Homo sapiens: one gene and its partner. The protein of the gene in region 1 interacts with the protein of each later gene in a pairwise test. Each region holds a gene or a part of one and is shown in the gene's direction. Other genes may lie near its edges. The genes, in order: PTPRCAP and DCDC2.

Region 1 (10,206 bases):
GTGGGCCGAGATCGCGCCACTGCACTCCAGCCTGGGTGACAAAAACTCCGTCTCAAAAAAAAAAAAAAAAAAAAAAAAAGAGCATTAACTTTGATAACTTAAAAAGAGTCACGTGAACATATCCACTGTCCGTGTAGATTCTACATTTATTTGTTGGGGGCGGTAATGGGGCCCCTTGGAGGTGTGCGTTCCGTCGGGGGCCGGGAAGGCGGGGCCTCACCCAATCCTGGAGACTCCTGCGGATGCCATTATGAGGAGCAAGAACGCGAAGGGGCCTCGGGTCCGCTGTAAGGCTGCACCCGCACCTGCGGCGCCTCTGCGGCGGCCGCCGTCGGCCCTGCCCCGCCCCGCCCCCTTCTTCCGGAGGAGCTGCGGTGGGGGCGCTCCACCGGGTCCTAGGAAAGGGGCTCTCTCTGGCCCCGTCCCCGGCGGCCCCGCTCCCGGCCCCCCGGCGCCGCTCAGCCTCCCGCCCAGCCCCTCCGCGCGTGACCTCGGCCCCGCCCCCGCGAGCCCCTGCCCCGCCCCCGCTCCGGGTCCCTCTGTCACTTCCTGAATCCTGCTTCCTGCTTCCCAGAGGCCGGGATCCGGAGCCGCCCGAAGCCGGTGCCGCAGCCCCCTGCGCCCCCGGTGCCCCCGGTGAGCGCGGCAGGGCCGGGGCTAGGGGCGCGGGCTGGGGGCTGGGCGGGGCTGCAGGGGCCGGGCTGAGGGGGCTGAGGGGGGATCGCGGGTCCCAGGAGCCTTTCGCCTCCCCTCTACCCCACTCAGTCCCACTCCCCTTGGCCGCCCAGCCTCTCCTCTCCTGGGCGGAGGTCCCTGGAAGTTGGGCTCCTGGTTCACCCTGGACCCCGATTCGAGGCCGCTCTGGGTTGCTTCGCGGCCCACAGCTGCGTCCCGACCCCGTCCCTTCCTGGGGGCCATGCCGGGGCTCCCTGGACATTCCCTGGGACTCAGAACTGGGCACTCACTCGGCCCCACAGTAGAGAGACTTTTCCTGCTTCCTCTCTCCTTCTTCCCCATTACCTAGCCTCCAAATCTCTGGGAGCAGGAAGGAGGCTGCTCCCGACTGGCTGGGACCTACAGTAGAGCTGAGAGCTCTCCAACCCCGGCACCTCCCACCTCCTGCCCCCGACACACACCAGAGCCAGGGAGGGGCCCTGCGTCCTGCAAAGCCCCTCAGGACTCAGCAGTGGTCAGGGCCGGAGCATTTACCTCTCAGATCACTGCCTGCGGGGTGACAGGCGGCCAGGCTCTGCACCTGTGACCCCATTCTGTAACTGGGTAAACCGAGACCCAGGAGGGTTACGGTGGCCTGGCCCCCGGTTGCATCCTCCCGGCTCACCTTCAGCAGCCTGGGGAGGGCTGGAGTTGTTGGGATGGGCCGGACTGACCCAGGCCTCTCTGTCCCGCAGACATGTCCTTCCGCAAAGTGGTCCGGCAGAGCAAATTCCGGCATGTGTTCGGGCAGCCGGTCAAGAACGACCAGTGCTATGAGGACATTCGCGTGTCCCGTGTTACCTGGGACAGCACCTTCTGCGCCGTCAACCCCAAGTTCCTGGCGGTGATTGTGGAGGCCAGTGGAGGGGGTGCCTTTCTGGTGCTCCCCCTAAGCAAGGTGGGTCCTGTCAGGGTTGGGGGAAGAGGAGGCACCTCGGCCACCCCTACTGGGCCTTTCTGCACACCTTGAATCCCTCATCTTGCCGTTTCTCACACTGCTGGGCAGGTGTTATAACCCAGATTTATCGCCCCAAGTGTTAGCACAGATGGAAAGTAGCCTGTTGCCATAGAGGCAGGGTTAGAGGCAGCAAACATTTCCTGCTCACCTGGCAAGTGGGGCACAGTCACATCTGGGCCACCTGTGAGCCGGGACGTGCATGTCATTCCCACTCCATGGAGGGGAAGACCAAGGCTTCGGGAGGGATGGAGCCCACTGACTGCCCCCTCGTGCCCACAGACGGGCCGCATTGACAAGGCCTACCCGACGGTGTGTGGGCACACGGGACCTGTCCTGGACATCGACTGGTGTCCTCACAACGACGAAGTCATAGCCAGCGGCTCGGAGGACTGCACGGTCATGGTGAGGCACAGGACTGGCTGGGCCAGGGTCGTGGGTGTGGCCGAAGGGGGCCAGCAATAGGACCAGCAGAGGACTGAGCTCGGTGGCCCTGTCCCTACCACAGGTGTGGCAGATCCCAGAGAACGGGCTGACCTCCCCGCTGACAGAGCCGGTGGTGGTACTGGAGGGGCACACCAAGCGAGTGGGCATCATCGCCTGGCACCCCACGGCCCGAAACGTGCTGCTCAGTGCAGGTCTGCACCGCCCCCCGTTTTGTGCTCCCCCCCCCCACGGACCCCTCCATACATCCCAGCAGCCCCTCCAGGGCCCACATGACAAATGGGAAAGCTGAGGCCCTCAGAGTTGGAGAGACCCGTCTGTCCCAGGGTGGTGGGCAGAGTGGGCCTCAGCCTGGTGAGCTAATGGCCTCCTGCCACCCACCCGGCCCGAGCTGACAACCCTCACCTGCCAGGCTGCGACAACGTGGTACTCATCTGGAATGTGGGCACAGCGGAGGAGCTGTACCGCCTGGACAGCCTGCACCCTGACCTCATCTACAATGTCAGCTGGAACCACAATGGCAGCCTGTTTTGCTCAGCATGCAAGGACAAGAGCGTGCGCATCATCGACCCCCGTCGGGGCACCCTGGTGGCAGTACGTGGCTCTGGAGGGCAAGGATGGCTGTGGATAGGCCCAGGACCTTGAGCAGGGCGCTGCACTGACCAGCCTGTCCCCCCGACAGGAGCGGGAGAAGGCTCATGAGGGGGCCCGGCCCATGCGGGCCATCTTCCTGGCAGATGGCAAGGTGTTCACCACAGGCTTCAGCCGAATGAGCGAGCGGCAGCTGGCGCTCTGGGACCCAGTGAGTGGCCAGCCTGAGGGGGCAAACTTGAGACTTGGGCCCCACCCTGGGCCAGGCAGGCAGGGTTCACCCTGGGGAGGCCTGTGGTTCCTAGCTTCTCTGCCTGGAACTTGAGGCTCTCAGGGCCTAGGACTCTGTCAGACTTTCCTCTCCTGCCCCCTGCTCGCCCGACTGCCCCACCACTCCCCCATGGCCTCCCACTGCCTCTGTGTCTTTGCCCATGTTGTTCATGCCAACGGAAGGGCCCTTCTCTCCCTTGCTTGCCTGTACCACCCACTGCCTGCACAGGGCTCCCCGCTCCTCCAGAAAGCCTCCTCCTCCAGCAAGCCTCCTGGCCCCAGCCCTCTCTGCTTCTGCATAGTGACCTCCAGGGCACCTTGAGCAGGGGCTGGTGCCGCTGGCACCCCAGCTCCCCACAGTGAGGTATGTTTCAGCACTTGCTTAGTGGCCTGGGCATAGTCTTAAGGCCTGGAGGAGGCTGGAAAAGAGGGACCCTGGGAATAAAGTGAAGCCAGGAGGGCCAGGTGGGGGTCGTCATGTGGGAAAAGGCATAGAGATGGCAGAGGGCCCACCTGCATTTAGGGGCAGTGCTGGCTGGCCTTAGTGAGGCCAGCTAAGGCCCGTCCTGGTTTGGGATTAGGGGGTGAGGAGGTTCTGCTTGGCCTGACTGCCTGCAATGTGCCAGGAAAACCTCGAGGAACCCATGGCCCTGCAGGAACTGGACTCGAGCAACGGGGCCCTGCTGCCCTTCTACGACCCCGACACCAGTGTGGTCTACGTCTGCGGCAAGGTGGGGCTGGGCAGGGCTGGCGAGGGGCAGGGAAGAGGCGTGCCCAGGTGCTGAGCCCCCTCCCCACACAGGGTGACTCCAGCATCCGGTACTTTGAGATCACAGAGGAGCCTCCCTACATCCACTTCCTGAACACGTTCACCAGCAAGGAGCCGCAGCGGGGTATGGGCAGCATGCCCAAGCGGGGCCTGGAGGTCAGCAAGTGCGAGATCGCCCGGTAAGAGGGCTACCGAGGCCACTCGGGGATAGGGGCATCTAAGGTGAGAGGTCAGGTCATTGGAGGCTGCTTGGGAGCAGGAAACCTTGCGCCAGGGAGGCCCGGCGGGCCATGAGAACTGTCACGAGGCAGCCCGTGTGGGGGTCTAGCCACCTTAGGGGTCGGCCTGCGGAGGTCCTGGGGTGAGGACTGGAAGTGGAGGATGCCAGGAGAGCTGGCGGTGGGTGGGGGGGGCGGTGAGGGTTCCACCCGTGGCTCCTCCTTGCATCCCCAGGTTCTACAAACTGCATGAGCGCAAGTGTGAGCCCATCGTCATGACTGTGCCAAGAAAGGTGAGGCCGCCCGTCCCTCGGCTCACTTGGCCCTTTCTCCAGCAAGCGGGCCATGCAGTTGTGACCAGGGCGAGGCCTGTGAATGGAACATGACCTAGTATGGTTTGTGGGCAGTGAGCTGGACAGATGCCAGCTTGCCCTTGTACCAGCCAGCTGTTGGGCTGTGCCAGTCAGGGGGCAAGTGGGGATGAGACAGAGGGTGAGCAGGGGCCCTGCTCTGGATGAGCCACAGGAGAAGGACACCAGGCAGTCAGGGAGGGAGTGGCAGCCACACAGATCTTCCTGAAGGAGGCAGGACCCATAACACAGCTGGGGTGGCGCCATCCACTGGGGGCAGGCCAGGCGAAGGGCACAGTGGTGGGAATGGAGAGAGGAACAAGGAGTCTGGCTGCAGTGGGGAATCCCATGAAGAGGGGACCGGGCCACATGTGGCTTGGCCTCAGATGCCAAGAGCCTCGGACACGCTTCCATGATTCTCTGGCCAGCATTTGCCGACTGCTCTTTCAACATGCCAGGCACATTTTGGGGAGTGGAGCTGAGCTGATAGGGCCTGCTCCAGGAGCTCACAGTCCATGGGCCCCAGAATCCCATAAAGCCACATAGTGGCCCCTGTGCCTTGCAGGGGAAGGTGATGACAGGGGCCTTGCTCAGAAGGGTGGGAAAGCTTCCGAGGGAGCTGTTGATGGTGTCCAGAAAGGAAGTTAAAGGCCAGATTTGAGCTTTCCAGGCCGTGGGAGAATGGGTTAACAGAGTGCAAGCCTGGAGGCCAGGGGAGGGATGAGGGGACCCTGATGGGGCCTCCTAACTGATCCTGACCTCCCCGGCCCCCTGCCCAGTCGGACCTCTTCCAGGATGATCTGTACCCCGACACAGCCGGGCCCGAGGCAGCCCTGGAGGCTGAGGAGTGGGTGAGCGGGCGGGATGCCGACCCGATCCTCATCTCACTGCGGGAGGCCTACGTGCCCAGCAAGCAGCGGGACCTGAAGATCAGCCGGCGCAACGTGTTGTCTGACAGCCGGCCCGCCATGGCCCCGGGCTCCTCCCACCTAGGGGCCCCCGCCTCCACCACCACTGCTGCTGATGCCACCCCCAGCGGCAGCCTGGCCAGAGCCGGGGTATGCACGCGCAGGCAGGGGTGGTGCTGGGAGCCCCAGGTGTGGCCCTGGCCTGCTGTGTGGGCTTCAGCCATTCGCTGTCCCTCTCTGGGGTAGTGGTGGGTTTGGGAGGGCTATGGCTTAGCAGCCCCTGACCACCGCCCCCTACCCCTGCTTCATGTCCCCACAGGAGGCTGGGAAGCTGGAGGAGGTGATGCAGGAGCTGCGGGCCCTGAGGGCGCTGGTCAAGGAGCAGGGCGACCGCATCTGCCGCCTGGAGGAGCAGCTGGGCCGCATGGAGAACGGGGATGCGTAGGGCCACAGCCACACGCCACCTTCATCTCCTCCGCCGCCCCCTTCCCACTCAGCTTCTGCCAGCGGGTCGCACCGGGCTAGCTGGCTGCCCAGAGCCTCTGAGGCAGCGCAGGGGTCAGTTCCCACCCCCACCCGTCCCAGGCCCAGGCCGAAGCCAGCGCCCAGCTTTCCTCACTGTTCCTGTGGAGGATGTCTACGCCCAGGCGAGCTCCTCGACCTCTGAGGGACCATCTCCCCGACCACTGCCCAGCCCTCTGCTCCCTCCCCAGAGGAGGCGGGAGGGTGGGCTCTATATTTTCATTCCAAATAAAATTCTCTTTCTAAAAGCCAGGCTGACCTGCTGCTGCAAGGGTGGGGCTGAGAAGTCTGGAAACCTGGAGACAGAGGATGTCACAGGAGTCACACATGTGCAGAAGGTCTGGGGGCAGTGAGCAGCCCCACAGGCATTGCTCCCCTGGATTGTCAGGCAGGGAAACTGAGGCAGAAGACCTGAGAACACATGCAAGGCTGCATCCAGCTTCAAGTTGGTGCTGCTTCTTCCTTGGAGGACAGGCCCGGCAGCCCAGCCTCCTCCAGAGAGACTGGGGAGGGTCTGGTGTGGACCAGGGGTCCTGCAGCAGGGAGGGGCAGGTGGGGTATGTGGGCAGGAAGCGGAAGCCTGGGCCACCCTTCACTGCAGACGAGCACTGAGCTCACTTCTCGCTCGACACAGCCAGAGCTGGAGGTGGGTGCCCGGCACGGAGGGGCCTGCGGACCAATGGTAAGCCTCGGAGCCCCCCGGGTTCTTGGGATGGGGGCCACAGGCGGTCGGGGCTAGAATGTCTGGGCCTGTGGAGCTAAGGAGGGCCCCACATTGGCCCCAGGGAAGAGGTGAGACCTAAGAGGAGTATGGCAGAGGCTGAACCTTTCTCTCACCTGAGCTGGGCTCCCTGGGACTCCAGGCCTGGCCCCCAGCACCCCATACCGGACCAGGCCCCTGTCAGGAGCCCTGGGAAGGCCCTTACCTGGTCTTCCTGTGAGCGGGAACTTGCATTCCTGGAGCCTGGGCGGACAGCCTGGGGTGGTGGGGGAGGCTGGCTGCACCTCAGCACCCCTCCCCCGACACCCCCCACCTAGCCTGTTCCGACCGCAGACTTCCTCTGGCAGCTGCGCCCGCCTCCCCCAGCCCCCCCCAGCCCCCGGCCCTGCACGCCTGTGGCCCTCAGGGACTGGGAGTGGAACGGAAACCCTGCCGCTGGGGCAGCCCCGTGGTGGGGAGGGAGGAAGAGGGGCCTCACGGACCCCCGTTTGGGGACCTGGCCAAGCAGAAGATGAGCAGTTGCCTCTGGGTGCATCCAGGCCCCTCCATCCCCCATCCCAGGCCTCAGGGAGAGCCAGCCCTGACACCAGCTAGCAACCTCCTTCCCTCCCTCCCATCTCCTCTCCCACCCACCCAGGCAGCCTAGACACATTTAATCCATACTTATTGAGCACCTACTAACATGCTTGACCCAAAAAGCCCCCGTTTCCTAGCAGCTTATTGTGGGGGGTAGATAAGACAATAGACATAAAAAATGAGTACAGTTATCTCCTGCGTTAGGTGACATGGAAGGAAAAAGGCACTGAGTGCTGGGGGGTGCTGGGGTGGGCTGCAGTGATAGACATCAGGGTAGAGGTTAAGGTCAGGTTCAGCCTCACTGGGGTGAAGTTTGAGCACGGTGAGCAGGCCATGCAGCCCGGGGGAGGGGAGGATGGGAGGAGGTGGAGCTTTCCGGGCAGAGGGAACAGCCAGTGCGAAGGCCCCAGGCAGGTGGCTTAATGCAGCTGTTGGGGGAGGTGAGTGGTAGGGAGGAGGCTGGAGGGATGGGGGCTGATCTCACAGGGCCAGAGCCTGGTTGACCAAATAAGGCCTTGGCCTTTTCTGCTTGGCTGTCCCAAGAGGATCCCAAAGAGAAAAAAACGAAAGTGGTCTTGGTCACCCAGCCTGCCCCACACCAGGCCCCACCCCAGGTGCTGAGCCCTCTGAGCCCCTGCCTGTCTCCCACAGGCTCTGCCCTGCACCTTAGGGCTCGGGATGCTGCTGGCCCTGCCAGGGGCCTTGGGCTCGGGTGGCAGCGCGGAGGACAGCGTGGGCTCCAGCTCTGTCACCGTTGTCCTGCTGCTGCTGCTGCTCCTACTGCTGGCCACTGGCCTAGCACTGGCCTGGCGCCGCCTCAGCCGTGACTCAGGGGGCTACTACCACCCGGCCCGCCTAGGTGCCGCGCTGTGGGGCCGCACGCGGCGCCTGCTCTGGGCCAGCCCCCCAGGTCGCTGGCTGCAGGCCCGAGCTGAGCTGGGGTCCACAGACAATGACCTTGAGCGACAGGAGGATGAGCAGGACACAGACTATGACCACGTCGCGGATGGTGGCCTGCAGGCTGACCCTGGGGAAGGCGAGCAGCAATGTGGAGAGGCGTCCAGCCCAGAGCAGGTCCCCGTGCGGGCTGAGGAAGCCAGAGACAGTGACACGGAGGGCGACCTGGTCCTCGGCTCCCCAGGACCAGCGAGCGCAGGGGGCAGTGCTGAGGCCCTGCTGAGTGACCTGCACGCCTTTGCTGGCAGCGCAGCCTGGGATGACAGCGCCAGGGCAGCTGGGGGCCAGGGCCTCCATGTCACCGCACTGTAGAGGCCGGTCTTGGTGTCCCATCCCTGTCACAGCCGCTCACTCCCCGTGCCTCTGCTTCCCAAGATGCCATGGCTGGACTGGACCCCCAGCCCACATGACCATGCCTCAGACTGTCACCCCCTACCAGTTCCCAAGTCCATGTGTACCCCGCTCACCACGGGAACGGCCCCCCCCAACCACAGGCATCAGGCAACCATTTGAAATAAAACTCCTTCAGCCTGTGGCCCTGTGGTCCTACAGAGACCCCTCCCTCCTGGACCAGGGGCTCCTCCTGGCACAATCCAACCCAACCCTGCCCCTAGGCATGCAGCACAAAGAGCCAGGTCAGCACCATGATTCAGCCCTTTAATCTTCCACGGGAGCAGTTGAGCGCGGGGCGTGGCGGGCGGCCCTCCGTGCCCATGATTCAGGGGCACAGCTGCCCCAGCAGACACACACTTTCATACGCACTCACACCCCACCCCCAGACACACCCCCAGGTCTCTGGAACTGGCCCAGGGTCCTGCTGCTCTCACAGCCGCAGGGACAGGGCTCAAGGGCTACCCTCACCCCCACCCGGCTTCCTAGCGCCCTGGACGCCCACGGCCCCTCTTGGACTTCTTGGTCCCTGAGGGGGGACGGATGGGGAGAGGGGCGGTGGTCGAGGGCGGCGGCGGTGGCAGGAGTGGAGGTAGAGGTAGCTCCGTGGGCTCCGGCAGGCTGGGGCTGGGCCGAAACCCCTCAAAAGGGGAGAACTTGAGGGGGCTGCAGGGGAAACCAAGGCAGAATAAGAGCCTCCTAGGCCCTGCCAGAGGCTCCCAGCACTCAGTCAGGGAAGGCAGCCTTTCCCACCTGCCCAGGCACACAGGCCGCGGGCTCCACAAACTCCCATCCAGGCAGCCTGGCCACAAGGGGTGTAGGAACTGAGGTCCCCATGATAGACACAGCAACCGAAGCCAACACTGGCCGACAGACGTGGCCAAGGCACCCAAGGCTGGAGCTGGCATCCTGCCTGCCAGCGTCCCTAACCCAGCCACACACCCCCACGTCCCTCAGTACCTGACGGGGGCCCGGGGGCTACTGTTGAGGCGCCTGGGTGAGCGCAGCTTGGGCTGGAAGGAGAAGCCCTCCTTGATGCTGTCCAGGACAGACGGCGCCACGTATGTGAAGCCCTGGGGGGCGGAGGCAGGGCCATGCGACACTCAGTGCCTGCCATCCTTAGTCACGATCCGTGCCCTGGTCCCACAGGCCTCAGGCCCCCGCACTCACCAGGAAGGCCTGGTTGGCACTCTCGCTGAGGGCTGTGTCATCAGGACTGTCCACCGGCGTCTGCCGTGTGAAGCGGGTATCAAACTGGCTCACGTCCTCCTCTGACTGCTGTGGGCCGACCAGAGTGGGGAGGGGTCAGAGGGCACCAAGATGCAGGTTCTCCACTTGCCACCCGCCACCGGCCACTGGCCACCAGCCCTGCTGCTCACCAGACAGGGCCTGAAAGGGGGGTCCACACGCCAGGCCAGAAGGTCGTCCCAATTCATGTGCCGGAAAAAGGGATGTCTCTGTAGGTAGAGAATGCACCAAACCCACTAACAGCTCACCCTGCTTGCCCCCCGGTCACTCCCTCTGCCCTGGGGCCCTGCCCCCATTCCCGGCACCCTTGGAGACTCAGCCCTACCCCTGGTGGTGGTCCCAAACCCACCTGCACATCAGCAGCATCCCCTGGGCCACCCCCAATCCGCTGGCTGGGATTCCGTTTCAGAAACTGCGGGACCAGGAGAGAGGGTGAGGGCCTGGGCAAGTACTGCTCATGTGTCCCCGGGTCCCAGGGCTAGCTGGAGTAGGGGTCAGGTGACATGGGAGAGAATGCTTTTGGGTGTGGCTCCCACCTATGGATACCCTCAGGGCTTTCAAGGTTTGGTCAAT
Region 2 (10,801 bases), on another chromosome or scaffold:
AGCGACCTTTCAGGATGACTGTTCTGTGGAGAATGGATAATAGGGAAGCAAACTGGAGACAGGGTTACCTCTTAGGGGATGATGATGCCTTGAATTCAAAATGTGGAAATGGGTTTGGAGATAAGTGGATGGATTTAAAAAATATTTGAGAGATAGAATTGATAGAACTTGGTGATTAGTTGAAGAGCCCTTATAAACCTAGGGTGCAATGTGGTCTGGTTTTAGCACAGTATTACATCAAAATAAATATTGCTTAAGCAGAAATATATAATTGAAAGCATTTCAGAGATCTAGGCTCTTGAGGAAACAGCAAATGCCTTGTTGGTATTATTATTTTTCTTTTTGATTTTTTGAGACAGGGTCTTATTCTGTTACCCAGGCTGCAGTGTAACGGCATGAGCATGGCTCACTGCAGCCTCAACTTCCCAGGCTCTGATGATTCTCCCACCTCAGTCTCCTGAGTAGCTGGGACTACAGGAGCATGCCACTATGCCCTGATAATTTTTTTAGTTTTTTGTTTTTTTAGAGATGGGGTTTTGCCATGTTGGCCAGGCTGGTCTCAAACTGCTGGGCTCAAGCAATCCACCTGCCTCAGCATCTCAAAGTGCTGGGATTACAGGCTTGAGCCACCGTGCCCTGCTGGTGGTATTATTTTTAATGCACAGCAACACTTCTTTAAGAATCTTCTTTGGCCATCTCTCTCATTCTCAATGCCTTTCATATACTTAGGAAGAAGCTAAAATACAAAAACTCTCCCCTCCTTTCCTATGTGTGTTCTCAAACATTCCCTTGCATCCATCTGAAGCTCCTCATTCCTTAGCATTCCGCTCCTCATTCTACCTCAGCTCTTCGTGATCAGGGTTTATCTAACCTTTCTGGCTTCTTAAAGCCTTCTCACTTTGCTCAGTGTTCGGACTTTGCACAAGAGAGAAGAGCTCCAAAACCAATTCAGCAAGCATCTGGAGCAGGGAGAGAGATTGCAAATATCTGACTGTTTTTGTTGTTCCTCTGCCACAGTTAAATGTGTTCTGTGAAGAAGAGAAATGTATATGTTCTAGCTTTGAGCAAATGAGTAGATGAGGGTCCATTTGTGGAGACAGGAAACATAGGAAAAGTGATTTTGAGGAAAACTTGAGATCCCGTGAACGTTTCGAGTCTAGGCTGCCTTTTAGATGGTCTAGAGAAGCTGTCAGGAGAATTGTGTGCCTGGAACTGCCTTGTTCTGGCGTGTGAGGCAACTGTTAAATTCTCAGGAATTGTAAACATGGGCATTGTTAAAAAGTAATTTTATAAATATACGATTAAATAAAAAATAATTGTATAAATATACAATTAAATAAAAAATAATTGTATAAATATACAATTAAATAAAAAAATTGTATAAATATACAATTAAATAAAAAATAATTGTATAAATATACAATTAAATAAAAAATAATTGTATAAATATACAATTAAATAAAAAATAATTGTATAAACATACAATTAAATAAAAAATAATTGTATCAACATACAATTAAATAAAAAATAATTGTATCAACATACAATTAAATAAAAAATAATTGTATAAACATACAATTAAATAAAAAATAATTGTATAAATATACAATTAAATAAAAATTGTATAAATATGCAATTAAATAAAAAATAATTGTATAAATATACAATTAAATAAATTACATTGAAAACAAAGATAATAAATACTCAAAACTCATCTCCATCTACATTTTACTACTATCTGTGCTCTTAAAGTTACACAAGTCTGCTGTGCCTGCATGGTGGAAATACCATACAATGACTTGCTACTGCACATTTCATGGCTTCAGTGATGTTAGACTGGCATCTGGAAATTGGCCATATTTGGAGTAAACTACAGAGATTGGCAAATGCTATGAATTAAGGCCTTCTCTTCCCTCCTAAAAGCCAGCAGTTAAACACTTATCACCACATCATATCCAAGAGACATCTGGATAAATGAATCTAAGCTCAGGAGACACATCCGGGTTGGAGATACCGCAGTGGGAGGCATAGACTTGATGCGGGCAGCTTCATGGGCTGGCGTCAGGGTCCCCACATCAAGAAGGACCCCATGATTGGTTTAATGCTCTGCTGTTGCTAACATAAAATTCTTAATTTTTGAATAAGAGGCCACATTTTCATTTTACACTGGGCTAATATAGATGATAGGGAATTTTAGGTTGTTTGGGGAGGGGGCTACTTAATTGATTGCCTTCCATTTCCACATAACAAGTATTCTGTCTTACTCACCTATGTGGTAGCACATTTTCACAGGTATTTTCCCCATCCATCCCTCAACCTGTGCATTCTCCACAAGCAGCTCACAAAATTTCCCTTGTCTATTTCCTCCCTGTATTGTTCTCTTTGGCCTTCTTTTGAAATTTGTTAACTTTTTTTTTTTTTAACTTTCATTTTAGGTTCAGGGGTACATGTGCAGATTTGTTATATAGGTAACTCGTGTCACGGAGGTTTGTTGTACAGATTATTTCATCACCCAGGTACTAAGCCTGATACTCAACAGTTATTTTTTCTGCTCCTCTCCCTCCTCCCACGCTCCACCCTCAAGTAGGCCCCAGTATCTGTTGTTCCCTTCTTTGTGTCCGTGAGTTCTCCTCATTTAACTCCTACTTATATGTGAGAACATGCGGGTATTTGGTTTTTTGTTCCTGCGTTTGAAAACTGTTAACTTTCAAAGCATTAATGTATTACATGGCTTTAATAAAAATATTTCTTCAGAACAGAAATCTCGAAGGAAAAAAAAAGTTTCTCTCCAGATTGCAATGTCCCACACATTCATCTTTCACAGTGATATGACTGGTTATGGAGCTTGTGGAATAAGACAGAACTGGGTTTGAACTCTCTCTCTCTCTTTCGTTTTCTAATCCTTAGAATGGGTTTGAATTCCTGTGTGTGTGACCTGAGGTAAATGTCTTTGATTTCTCTACCCTTCAGTTTCCTCATCTGAGGAAAGAATAATATTTACCTCTGAAGGTTATTGTGAATATTAGATAATCTACATAAAGTGCCTTACATAATGCCTGGTCCATGGTTATAGTGTTCAATTAATGGCAGTTCTTTTTATTCGTACATGATGAGTTAGGAACACCCAGTAATTTGGACATGACACATGGTAGAAAAGTCTTAGGAGGAATGAAGGAAACACTGGCAGAGATGAGCTGCAAAATTTCAACTCTTTAAACATTTTCCTGGTGCCACAATATGTATGTCCCAGACTGGACTGGACAAAGCGACTCTTTACTGGGGCTGTTACTATTCTCACAACTCCTCTCCCTGTTATTCCTCAGACAGAGCTAACAATCTACACAAATAGCACAGATGTGGGCTCTTGGACAGCCAGTCAGACATTTAGCCTTCTTGCGGCAGTGAAAAAATCCTTTCCCTGGCGTAAAGCTTGGCACAGGGTAGGCACTCAAAATTTTGTAGGTTTTCCTTTTCACCGCCGTGGCCCCAACTAGCACAGGGCCTTGCACACAGCAGGCGTCCATTTACTGAATGAGCGCATGATGAATGAGCGCATGATCATGTCACCTGTTTCTCCCTCTTCCTCCAAACCCCTGTTCTTCCGCCTCTGCCCCACGCAGCCAGCATATCCCAAGGAGCCAGGCGCAAGCCAGGCCTGGTTCACTGACTCGCTCCCCGCGCGAGGCTGCGGTTGCTATGGAAACAGCGGGAAATAACAACTCCGTTCCCCTTGGGTGAGAGAGGCCCGCAGAGGTAACAGCAGCTGGAGGAACAGCGTGAGCGGCGCGCAGCCGCCGCAGAGTTCACCACTGTGCCACCCGAGCCGCACCGCCCCGCCCCCGCGCGGCCGGCGCCCGAGCTCCCCTCCCCTCTCCAGCACGCGAGTGTCGGTAGGTACTACGGCGGAGGGCACCTCCTGGGCCCGCCTCCCCAACCAGGGCCCCGCTTGCGCGCTGCCTGCTGTCTTCACGTGATGCGCACCCGAGCTTCGCCGCCAGGCGGCGCTGATCATCGGGGAGGGGGTTAGGGGTCCTAGACACGCGAGTCTTCGCTCTGTTTCTCATTCATTCATTCATTCACTTAAATGTTATTTTTCCCTTCCTTCCTTCCCTCCCTCCTTCCGGGATGGGGTCTTGCTGTGCTGCTCAGGTTGGTCTCAAACTCCCGGGCTCAAGTGAGCCTCCTGCCTCAGTTTCCCAAAGTGCTGGGGTTACAGGCATGAGTCACGGTACCCGGATTCTCTCTTTCTCTCTCTGAATATATATAATATATATAAAATATATATATAAAAATATATAATATATATAAAATATATAAAAAATATATATAAAATATATATAATATATAAAATATATATAATATATTATATATAAAATATATATTATATAGTATATATAAATATATATACTATATAGTATATATAAATATATATAATATATAATATATAAAATATATATAATATATAATATATAAAATATATATAATATATAATATACATAAAATATATATAATATATAATATATATAAAAATATAAAATATATAATATATATAAAAAATATAAAATATATAATATATATAAAATATAAAATATATATTATATATAATATATAAAATATATAAAATATATAAAATATATAATATATAAAATATATATAATATATAAAATATATAAAATATATATAAAATATATAAAATATATAAAATATATAATATATATAAAATATATAATATATATAATATATAATATATAAAATATATAATATATAAAAATATATGATATATAATATATATGATATATAAAATATATAATATATATAAAATATAAAATATAAAATATATAATATATAAAATATATAATATATAATATATAATGTATAAAATATATAATATATAATATATAATATATAATATATAAAATATATAATATATAATATATATAATATATAATATATTATATATATAAATATATATAATACATATATATTATATATATTATATATAATATATAAATATATATATAAATATAATATATATATTTATATATAATATATAAAATATATATTTTATATATTATATATAAAAATATATAATATATAAATAAATAAATAAAATATATATAAAATAAAATATATAAAATATATATATAAAAAAAATATATATTTTATTTTCTAAGACAGGGTCTTGCTGTGTCGCCCAGGCTGGAGTGCAGTGGCAAAATCATAGGTTACTGCAGCCTCGACCTCCTGGGCTCAAACAATCCTCCCGCCTCAGCCTCCGAGATAGCTGGGTCCACAGGCGAATACCCTGCCCACCTACTTTTTTTTTTTTTTTTTTTTTTTAATTGTAGAGACCGGGTCAGGCTGGTCTCAAACTCCTTGCCTCAGGGGATCACAGGCGCGTTATAGAGACGGGGGCTTTCCCTGTGTTTCCCAGGCTGGTCTAGAACTCCTGGTCTTAGGCAGCCCTCCCGCCTGGGCCCCTCAAAGTACTGGAATTTGCAGGCGTAAGCCACCGCATCTGGCTTTGCACATTTATCTTCCAGCAAAGAAAAACCTGGGCAACTACATCCAGGAACTTAATTGCTTTAATTTGGGAGCAAGCAGGAGATTGAGGGGTAAAGGTGCAAGAAGAGAGAAAAGAAAAATTAGGCTGTTTGGAAAGGGTAGCACAGATATGATGTAAGAAATTGGGTTTCACCATATTTGTGTGTGTGTGTGTGTGTGCGTCCTCCTCTCTCCTGCCCTCACTAGGCGTGCCTGTTTGAAGGCCCCGCGCGTTTCCGGCTCCTGCTCAGAAGCTGTCCACCTTGATTCTGCCCGTAGCAGGTGAACCTGGTGTGGTGCGCGCACTGCGGGTCCTGATTGGCTGTGCACGCCACGGTGAAAAACTTGAGCGTCTACTCCGAGTCCTGCAAGCTCCTAGTGTCTCCTCTGGGTGGACGCCTAGGCGCACGGCCGTTACTTCTCTTTCACCTGTGGATTCGTCAGTTTCTCGTTCGTTTCAGGAGGCGATCCCGCGCCCTGGGTGCGGTGAGGCCGCTGGGACAGCGGAGGTGCCTCCCGACGCGAAGCAGCGAGCTGAGGCGGCGGCCAGCGGGGAAGATGAGCGGCAGCAGCGCCAGGTCCAGCCACCTGTCTCAGCCCGTCGTGAAGAGCGTGCTTGTGTACCGCAACGGGGACCCCTTCTACGCGGGGCGCCGCGTCGTCATCCATGAGAAGAAGGTGTCCAGCTTCGAAGTCTTCCTGAAGGAGGTGACCGGCGGCGTTCAGGCACCCTTTGGGGCCGTCAGGAACATCTACACCCCGCGGACTGGCCACCGAATCCGGAAGCTAGACCAGATCCAGAGCGGGGGCAATTACGTGGCTGGAGGCCAGGAAGCCTTCAAGAAACTCAAGTGAGTCGGTCTCCCCCACCGCCCACCCATTTAGGTGCCCTATAGTGTGGGGTTGATATGAAGAAATGCAGATCCCTACCCCCCCACACCTCAGTGGTTGAGGGGCTGTGACTTCTCGGTGTGATTGATGCCCCTCAAAACTCTCGTTGCAGTTGGGGGGTAGAGGTTGACACTGTGACTGGAGAAGGAATTTCACTTGGGTCAGCAGTAGGAGTAAACTTAAAATCTGTGTATAAACAACAGGAATCTTAAAGAAAATAAAAAGGTATCCTTGCAAAGGTTAGTGACCAAACTGATACTTTTGCGTTTTCTGTTCAGTTTTTTCTTTCCTTTTCCTTATTTTTTTTCCTTGGAAATCCATCCTTTTAATTTAAATAAACATTCTTAAAAATCACTTCCAAGTGTTGGACACTATATTGTCACCAGAGGAGAAAATTGCTCTGCATTTCCCGTACTGTTTAAATTATTTCAACCTTTCATTCCAAGTAGAATTGACAACACTCACTTTTGTGACCCTGCTCCCACCCCCTGCATGTTTATGCTGTTAGCATAATGCAGGAAGAGTTTACTGGCTGACTGTATTTGTCGACTGTCTGTCTCCAGCAACGTGATTAGACCTTCAAGGGCAGGGGTCCTTATTCCCAGCTCTTGAGCTCACTCATAGTGAGTGTTCAGTGAATTAAGAAACCGTCAGTTCAGGGAACAAAGATGAGCAAGGCATGATTCCTTGTCTTTAGGAGCTTTCAGTCTAACTGGACTACCTGCACACTAACAATTTTAATGCAAGCTACAAAGGGATATGTGCATAGAAAAATAAAGTTATGTGGGAATTGTGAGTTGAGAGTTGGTTGGGGTGGTCATTATAGGACAGGTAGAATTTTACATTCCATTTTTTTTTTACAGCTTTATTGAGATAGATTTCTCATGGCATGAAGTCCAACCATTTCATTGGCTTTCAGTGTATTCAGAGTTGTGCAACCATCACCACCAACTAATTGTAGTTCATTTCCACCCCTCCCGCCAAAACATTTGTACCTCCCAGTTTCCTCTGTCCCCTGTCATCTGGAAACCACTAATCTATTTTCTGAATCTATGGATTTGTCTATTCTGGACATATCATATAAATGGAATCATACGGTATATGGTCTTTATGTCTGGCTTATTTCACTTACTGTAACATTTTCAAGGTTCATCCATGTTGTATCATACATCAATACTTCATTCTTTTTATTGTTGAATAACATTCCATGATTTGGGTATATTACCTTTTATATCCATGCTTATCCATTTATCAGTTTGATGTATATTTGGGTTGTTTCACATTTTAACTATTATGAATAATGCATCTATGAATATTTGTGTACAAGTTTTCATTTCTCTTTGGTGTATACCTAAGAGTGAAATTGCTGGATCACATGGTAACTCTGTATTCCATAGTTTAATAGAACATTTTAATTGAAATTCATCTTGGGCCCCAGGATAGAAAAAAGCCTTGACCATAAATCTAAGCTTATGAATTCATAAGCATTATTGGATTCTTAATAATTAAAATTCAAATAAAGTCTTATAACTACATAGAAATATTTTTCAAAATATCACTAAAATTCTTGAATGTAATCCTTCTTCTCCTATATTTGTTTAAATTGAGTTCTAGGTATTCTATTATACTTTTTGTTACGTCAGACATTCTTTTCATGGAAAGTGAGGGATATATTTGGATTTATTTTTCCCTCCCCTGAAGCTTCTTAAGCATGCTTTGTTAAACTTCGTAAAAAAGGGCTAAATGAAATTGCATGCTTAAAGGAAACTTAAAACCAGGAGACTGAAGACTGAGTTGCTCATCAGCTCTGTGTCCTTGGGCAAGTCGCTTGACTCAGCTAATCAGTTTCTTAATACAGAAAAGGTGCATAATCATTTGTACCACACAGGGCTGTGATAAAAAGTAAATGCTATAGATGTGTGTTTTGTAAACACCAAAGTGTTACATAAATATAAGACACCTCTATGACCAGTTCCTTTTGTTACATACTTTATTTTTTATTAAATATTTCCGTCTAAAGCAATTTCGTGGAAATGAAAGTCTGGTTCAGAATCTCTGAACGGCTGAAAATTGTAGACTCACTTTTATAGTTCATGTTCTTTTGTTTATTTGATCCTACCAACTCACAAGATTAAAAAAAAAAGGTACAGTTCCACACCAAATAAAAAAGTGTACTCAAGTCTCTCTAAGAGATTTGCATGTTATTTTTGCTTTCAGTTCATACACAAAAAACTGAATTTGTTATAACAGTGTCCATGGTTAGGTTTCCATGCTGACAGATGACTATTTTATTTGTGTTAAAGAAGTAGTATCTACGGTTATAATGATAGAAGCCAAGAATACTTGAATGTTGAATATATTTGAAACTTAGCACTTATAAGTTTATGTAAAGAATGGAGAAACTGTCAGAACAAAAGAAAGCCCAAACGATATTGAGGACAATTCGTGGGCTTTCATTTAGACCCTAAATGTTGGGAAAGACAGCAACATCTTTTTCAAATGGAACTGATCAAATCGCTGCTTGAATTGCTTTCACTTAGATTTTTCTAATATTTTTGAAACGATAACTAAACATCAGGTAGCTATTAAACCCTTATTTATTTCAAATGTGAGACCATACATTCACAACCTTTATTTTACAGCAGAGGATTCTAGAGAGTATTTCCCCCAAAACTTTCCCTGTGCATTGTTGGAAGTTGACTCTGCAGCATTAATCTTGTGGATCTGAAACCACTTTCCTGCACATGACAGAATATTTTGGTATTATTTCAAAACTCAGCCCCTGCAGGTCCACAAAAGACCCATTTTATTGCTAAGACGGAGTGTTTGCACTGTTTTAAAAATATGACTACTTTTATATAGGGGCATTGTATGACAATTTCCAGAGATATGAATTAACTAAAGTATTTTATCCAAAAAGGCAAACAGCAACAATAAAAACATTTCAATAGCCAAAATTAATTCTAACATAAGCTTTTTTTGGGACAAGTTGGCAATTGTAGTAGTTGGGGTAAAGGATTGATCTATCATTATAAATTATATGTTAGATTTATACTTTTTAATATTAAAATGTTTATTTAGCACATTTTATGTATGAAGCACAGTTTAGGGACCATTTAAAACTGGAACCACATCACAGTGATATTACACGTGAAGTTGACAAAGGTATACAGTTTTCAGGTTGTGCTTATGTAACAGCTAAAGAATGATCACTGTTAGTATCTAGAGCAAATAGTAATGGAATAATAGGGGTCTCCAGAGGTTAACTAGTCCACCCATCTGTTTCTTAGCTGAACCAATTACCAAAGTCATCCCACATGAGTGAGTGTTTTTGTATCATTAAGGTGCTCTCATAGAGACAATAATTTCTCAGCCTTTCCCAGTTGTTACCCTAATGCACGCTATCAGTACTTCCTTTGACCTAAAGCCTGTATTTAATGGAACAGTTAAGCAGCTTTGCACATAAGCCACTCTTTTAAAAAATCAAATCTGTAAGAATATAGTGTATATAGTAAGCAGCTAACTATTAAGAGGGAAAAATGTTCTCTAATAGATGTATGTATTTCTAAGACTTTCCTTCTCTTGAAGTTTAGGGTAGACATATGTCAGCTCTGGTTGGTGACACTGCAAACAGTTTTTACTATTGTAATTGCTTTTCATTAGTAGCTATTTGTTTTTGCTTTAAGGTTGAGAATTTCCTATGAGTTGCTTTATTTTTTTATGATTTTTAAAAATAAATTACTGACTTAAAGTCTATAAAAGCAACTCTTATTGTTTGTTTGTTTTTTCCTCAGTTACTTGGACATAGGAGAAATCAAGAAAAGACCAATGGAAGTTGTTAATACAGAGGTAATGCAAATATTATTTTGAAAATTCAAATAAATAACGGTGCCATTTGTTTCTTATGGTGTGTCTTAGAGATTTGGACGGCATTCTACTTTGATGAGTTCTCTAATGTAAAGAAATGGAACATTATATGTTTTAAGGCAAAGATAATTCTTTCTTTGAATCATTGTCAGAAATGAAAAGACTGAGTAGATGTTCTAAGATGTGCAGGATATGTCAAGATTAGACAAAACATATTTTTCTCTTTTCTAGCTACATGTTCTCTGATTGAAATCCATGGGAAGGTTCCCTGTCAAGTGAGAAGATTCTGAGCGTTGTTAAATAAATCTTTACCAAAGCTACATCCTCATCCTAATGTGCCTCTGATAACTCAGTGTTTGATGTAGCCAGGGTCACCCTAACTGCCCCTGAGGCTTTCAAAGGAGATGAGTAGATGTCACGTTGGACACTTTGTGATGTCAGGAAAACACCTGTGTTTTAGCTTCTATCGAAGTACGAGTTAAGCATAGTTCGTGAAAGC

Evidence for each region.
Region 2: the proteins of PTPRCAP (region 1) and DCDC2 interact in binary tests that used the Homo sapiens proteins (3 or more experiments, as listed by UniProt).

What each region holds. Positions count from the first base shown.
Region 1 is NC_000011.10:67,433,834-67,444,039, reverse strand, and holds PTPRCAP (protein tyrosine phosphatase receptor type C-associated protein), read left to right. Parts: upstream 1-6,357; 5' UTR 6,358-6,420; coding exon 6,421-6,423; exon of another isoform or gene 6,424-7,689; coding exon 7,690-8,307; 3' UTR 8,308-8,530; downstream 8,531-10,206. Other genes in the region: CORO1B (coronin-1B), read left to right, coding at 1,412-1,612, 1,952-2,074, 2,178-2,307, 2,526-2,707, 2,796-2,915, 3,601-3,705, 3,777-3,922, 4,197-4,254 and 2 more; RPS6KB2 (ribosomal protein S6 kinase beta-2), read right to left, coding at 8,871-9,051, 9,346-9,458, 9,556-9,663, 9,765-9,842, 9,983-10,045.
Region 2 is NC_000006.12:24,353,052-24,363,852, reverse strand, and holds the start of DCDC2 (doublecortin domain-containing protein 2), read left to right. Parts: upstream 1-5,793; 5' UTR 5,794-6,102; coding exon 6,103-6,395; exon of another isoform or gene 6,396-6,950; intron 6,951-10,229; coding exon 10,230-10,284; intron 10,285-10,801. UniProt on the Homo sapiens protein: Protein that plays a role in the inhibition of canonical Wnt signaling pathway. May be involved in neuronal migration during development of the cerebral neocortex. Involved in the control of ciliogenesis and ciliary length.